2 separate regions of the Homo sapiens genome follow, and region 2 is linked to region 1. The links come from fine-mapping of genetic effects on gene expression. A gene starts in region 1. The other region holds a variant in brackets. All regions are shown on one strand. Distances are between the middles of the regions.

The links.
Region 2: its variant is fine-mapped to the expression of ROR2 in sigmoid colon (GTEx, PIP above 0.99).

The regions. Positions count from the first base shown.
Region 1 is chr9:91,948,978-91,951,882 of GRCh38, reverse strand. ROR2 (receptor tyrosine kinase like orphan receptor 2) reads left to right here and starts at 1,655. Exons shown (of 9, transcript NM_004560.4): 1 at 1,655-2,016. The coding sequence starts at 1,920. RefSeq lists silencers at 1,082-1,376, 1,490-1,669 and enhancers at 1,863-2,362, 2,363-2,864.
Region 2 is chr9:91,978,268-91,981,172 of GRCh38, reverse strand. The region is part of intron 1 of LOC105376148 (a long non-coding RNA gene); the gene reads left to right. Among named protein-coding and RNA genes, the nearest start is that of ROR2, 29 kb to the right of the region's middle. The variant T/A (reference allele first, on the strand shown) is at 1,784.

The sequences.
Region 1 (2,905 bases):
CTTTGAGTTGGGTTTGTGGGGCCTCAGTCATGTGAAAATAACACACAGATGGGGGCATGATGAGGTCATTTTCCTGAAGGTCACACAAAAATAAATGGCAGGGCTGCTGATGAAATGGTTCTGGAGCCACATGCTCACGCTGTGTGAAGTGGAAAGCAAAGGTGCTGGGACCACCTTCTCCGAGCTGCACAGCACCACGGAAAGGACACAGCATTGCTGAGGGAGGGGTTTTCCAGGGCAGGTTCAAGACCCTTCTCTGCAGCCCCTGTTGGGTTTTCCCTAGATCCAGAAGAGAGGGGTGTGGAACTAAGTGCTTCAGCACCTACTCTTAAAACATTACTCTAAAAGCATCCTTAAGGATTCTAAGGGAAGCTAAAGGGAGGAAAACCCCAAAGATAAACCCCTGGCAGTCCTCTAACCACTGGGGAGAGCAGCCCCCCCGTTCAGACCCGCACCAGCCTGGGCAGAGGAACAGCCTGAGCCCGTCTAAGAAGTTTGGTAATAATTTTGCCATCCAGTTGAGGAGGGGCTAGGATCTTCTCCCATTCTCCTACTGGATTTACAGCAGCTCCTGGGAATGAGAACTGCGTGAGATATTTCCCTACACAAATTGGGTAGAGATAGCCGGACGCCTAAATACTTTTAACAGAGGTAACAAGCTAGAGCTGGCTTAGTCATTTTGTCCGCAGACCATAGCAAGAGAGTTTTTATTTCTGGCCACGTCTGAGGCCTCACGTCTGGCACCCAAGGCCAGGGCTCTCCCTAATGCCCTCCAATTAACAGAGCTTGGTACTCCAGCAAAAACACCAAACAAACTGCTGGATAATCAGTTAAAAGATCAATCTCATGGAACAAGCAACTGAGATGCTGGAGAATCCAATTCCTTCCTCTAAGAGGAAAAACAAAGACATTTGCATGTGCTGAGCAAAACCAAGAATAAGCAAGAAAACATGCTATTTGAATTCCGTTCAAAATGTCTCTAATAAGTGAAGCAAATTCTGCACATTCTGGGCCTCTGCAGAGAACAAATAGTGTTCTGCCTTTAATGGGTAAAATTATACAATTTGCTTTTAACAGTAAACCAAAAGCCGCGGTGGCTTCGGATAGCATCGCGCTCCCGAGGGCTCCCTCCACGCAGCTCGACCCCTGGCAGTTTTGAGCATTTCGGGGGACGCGCTTGTCCCCACCGACCTGGGAGGGCGCCGGTGCCAAGGCGGCCTGTTTGTTTTCCTGAACATTTCCTTTTGCAACTTTCGCTTCTCCTCTTCCTGCCTCACCGCTGGTGTCTGGGGCTGGGTGGCTCTCAGATTTGTCCCGGTGCGCAGTGCAGCCTGGAGTTACTGATTTGTGACCTAGATCCCCGGGTGTGTCGCCCCCGAAAGTCGGGGGCACCCGCTCTGGGCGCCTCTCCTGCGTGGGCAGACCCGCCGAACTCCGGCTGACGCCCCCAAGGCGCCACCTTTGTGTTCAAGCGTTCCGAGGCGCAGGCCCGAGGGCGGGCGCAGGAGGCAGGTCCGGGGCCCCAGCTGCAGCCCCAGCTCCTTGGGTCCCGCCCGCCGCCCGCGCGTTCCCCCGGCAGGGGGCGCCGGCGCAAGCCTCGCTCTGCCCATCGGGGCGGGCGAGCGGGGACCCTGCCTCCTGCGCGCTCGCCCGCGGTCCGCCCCCCGCGCTCGTCCTGGCGGCCGGCGGGACGCCCCAGCCCGCGCCAAGGAACCTCCCCAGCCAGCCCTTGCCGTGGCCGGAGCCGAGCGGCGCATCCGGGCCGGAGAAGAGGACGACGACGAGGTCCTCGAAGTGGACCCGTTTGCGAAGCGCCAGGGAGAAGGAGGAGCGGACGCATCGTAGAAAGGGGTGGTGGCGCCCGACCCCGCGCCCCGGCCCGAAGCTCTGAGGGCTTCCCGGCCCCCACTGCCTGCGGCATGGCCCGGGGCTCGGCGCTCCCGCGGCGGCCGCTGCTGTGCATCCCGGCCGTCTGGGCGGCCGCCGCGCTTCTGCTCTCAGTGTCCCGGACTTCAGGTAGGATCTGGCGTTCCGGCTTGTGCGCAGACGGTAGCTCACGGCTCGCTTGGCCAGCCCTTCCGCCGCCACTATGCTCCCGGCCGCTGCGCCGGCGCCCATGCTCCTGAACGAGGGGCGCCAGGCAGGGCCATTCGCATCTCGCCCGACGCCGCTCCCGGCCCGCACCCCGGACCCCCTCGGGCTGGTTACAATAAGCCGCGCTCTGGGGACGCCTAAGTGTTTCCAGAGTCTGGGGGCGGGCGGCGGCGGCTGGGAGCCTCTCGGTGGCGCTTCCCGAGGGTCGCGAGTGGGAGTGCGAGTGTGAATGTGAGTACCCGCCCTGGGCCCGGGACCCGAGTCCGCAGATGTGCCCCGAGGGTCCCAGGACCCGGGCTTCCTCCCCGAGGTCTTCCTCCTTCAAGGGCACACGGCCCCGAGTGTCCCCCGTCTGTCTCGGAGCGTCCCCCCACCCCCAGGGCGGCCTGATGCCTGGCAGAATCCTGGGGTGGACGTGGCCCCGGAGAAGCGGCTCTTGCGGCGGGGGTGGGGGCGCCGGCGGCTCCCGGGTCCTGACTTTCCCAGCCCGCGGGCCGCTTGATGGAAACGGGCTCTTTGGCATCCCTTTTGTTGGTCCCTGAAACCTCCTCTCCCCCACCGCTCTGGGGTGGCCGAAGTGGTGTGTGATCTGGATTGAAATGGTTTGTGACTGGGATCGCGGGTCCCTGAGCGGCTGGGGCGCGGCCGCCTTCTGGCCGCGCCGGGGGGACCCCCGGGACCTGTAGGAGGCTGGCGGCGGGAGGGGCGGGGCCCGGCTCCTAGGTGGGTTTCCTCCCGGGGCCCCACTTCCCCCGAGTCCCTGCGCGGTTTCGGCTGCTTGGATCCGGGGCGCAGAGGAACGGCGGGGAGG
Region 2 (2,905 bases), 29 kb before region 1:
GCAAGGTGACCAGGGAGTCGGCAACCGGTTCCATGTCACCATTTAGTTCTTGAGATAGTTTGTAGTAGAACTGAGTAGAGGTTGTAATACTGCCAATGCCAGTACCTAGTCCACCTAGTACTCCTGCTCCGATAACAAAAGGAAGAATGGGTACTCTTTTGTTGTGGGGCTTAGGTATGACATACTTGTATAAATCTTGTTCAGTGTAGATGGTCATAGGGGGCACTAAGAATGAGAGGAAGCACATAGATTCCGAAGAGCCATTCAAACAATGATAGGCTGGATACATTCCTCACTGAGGGCCCTGGTGCCTTTGGATAATTTTAGCCCTAAGTATTTAACCTGCTGTGAGCAGAGCTGAGCCTTCCGTTTGGAAATCTTGTAGCCACAGGCAGCAAGGAAATTTAAGAGCGCTTGGGTGACTTGATGGTACAGGTTTCTGAACAGGCGGCTAAAAGTAAATCATCCACGTATCAAAGGACAAGAGTGTCCATGTATGAGAACTGGCTCAAGTCTTGGGCTAATGCCTGGCCAAATAGATGGGGGCTATCCCTGAACCCTTGGGGTAAAACAGCCCAGGTGAGTTGAGACATTGGTTTAAAAGGATCTTCAAAACATCTTAACCATTTTTAAATGAACAGCTCAGTAGTATTAAGAATATTCGCATTGTAGGCCGAGGCAGGCAGATCACGAGGTCAGGGGATCGAGTCCATCCTGGCTAGCACAGTGAAACCCCATCTCTACCAAAAAAATAATGCAAAAAATTAGCCGGGCGTGGTGGCGGGCGCCTGTAGTCCCAGCTACTGGGGAGGCTGAGGCAGGAGAATGGCATGAACCCAGAAGGCAGAGCTTGCAGTGAGCCGAGATCATGCCACTGCACTCTAGCCTGGGTGACAGAGCGAGACTCTGCCCGCCCCCACCCCCAAAAAAGACGAATATTCACATTGTTGTGCAACCATCACCACCATTGATCTCCAGACTCTTTGTCTTGTAAAATGGAAACTCCATTCCCATTAATCACCAACTCCCAGTCCCCTTCCTCCAGCCTCTGGAAACCATCAGTCTACTTTCTGTCTCTATGATTTTGTCTGAGTACCTCATATGAGTAAAATCATACAGTATTTGTCCTTTCATGACTGTCTTACTTCACTCAGCATGATGTCCTCAAGGTTCCTCCGTGTTGTAGCGTGTGTCAGAGTTCTCTTCTTTTAAGGCTGAACAATGTTCCAGGGCATGGATAGATCACATGTTGCTTATCCCTTCATTCACTGATAGATACTTGGGTTGCTTCCAGTGTGTGAGTCTTTAACCAGCCGATTGGCCCTGAGGATCCATGCTCCAAATTCTCTATAAAGACCGATGGTTAGCTGTGTTACTTTTTTTTTTTTTTTTTTTTTTTTTTTGAGATGAAGTCTTGCTCTTGTCCCCAGGCTGGAGTGCAATGGCGTAATCTCAGCTCACTGCAACCTTCGTCTCCTGGGTTGAAGCGATTCTCCTGCCTCAGCTGCCCGAGTAGCTGGGATTACAGGTACCTACCACCACAACCGGCTCATTTTTGTATTTTTAGTAGAGACAGAGTTTCACTATGTTGGCCAGGCTGGTCTCAAACTCCTGACCTCAGGTGATCTGCCTGCCTTGGCCTCCCAAAGTGCTGGGATTATAGGCATGAGCCACTGCGCCCAGACTGCTGTGTTACATTTAAAGACTACCAAAAAGGTAGGTCTCAGACTTTCCAATGGTAGCTTGTTTTGAATTTAACACAGTTTCCAAATAAATTACTTTT[T/A]AAAAAAAAAATTTGTTCCATTTTTTCCCCCTGGCTTGTCATTCTGGAAGTAAAGAAAAACATTTCTGCACACTTCCCACAACAAACCTTCATGCTCCAAGAATGAGTCATCACATTTCTGGATGGAGCAAAGACGCACAGGCAGTGAAAGCATGCATTTAGTCTTCCAGTGAGGGATCCTGACACTGTGACTTAGCAGCTACCTTCAAGTGAGCTTTGAGGGTCAGGACTCGGTCAAGGCAATAAAGTCTCATTTTTTGCTAGAGAGGATGGGATCTGCTCTTGGTATTTATGGAGACTGTCAGCCATGGTCCACGAGGAATCATATCTCCTTGAGTCTAGGCTCCTCTGACAAGTGGCAGTGGGCTCTCCCTTTTGAGATACGGAGTCTATTTCTCCATCCCATGAATTTGGGCTGGCCATGCAATTTGCTTTTGCCAACAGAAGGTGGCAGAAGGGACAGAGTGCTGGCTCCAGGGTTAAGAGGCTTTGCAGTTCTTGCTCTCTCCCTGGTGGAACCAAGAAACCACCATATCTAGCCTGTGTTGGATGGAGAAGGACTCAGATGTCCCACCCCAGAGCTAGAAGCTGCGAGTGAGTCTGTTGGGTACGTACTTGCCCAGCTGCCCCTCTAGCTAAATGTGATCTTGTGGGTGAGCCAGGAGAAACCGGCAGAGGACCCACCCAGCCAACCCACAGAATGATGAAAAATAAATAATCATTGCTATTATAGGCCACTCCATTTTGGGATGCTTTGTTTAATAGAAATAGATAACTGATCCAGTATTTGAGAACATAAATGAGTTTCTGGCTCTGAGGGAGGATGCGGATAACAGCAGTCCCAGCGCTGCCAGGCTTTGTGTCTGAGAGGTGGTGGACCTCCGATCCCAGCATGGGTACCAGTCCTGGGAGGTGCAAGATTGTGCATGGCAAGACGACGCTGCTGGCTGGCATCACACAAGGGTCTAAGACTAGGGGACCGGCAGGTGGGGTGGCTCATGCCTGTAATCCCAGCACTGTGGGAGGCTGAGGCGGGAGCATCACCTGAGGTCAGGAGTTCAAGACGAGCCTGGCCAACATGGTGAAACCCTGTCTCTGCTGAAAAATACAAAAAAATTAGCT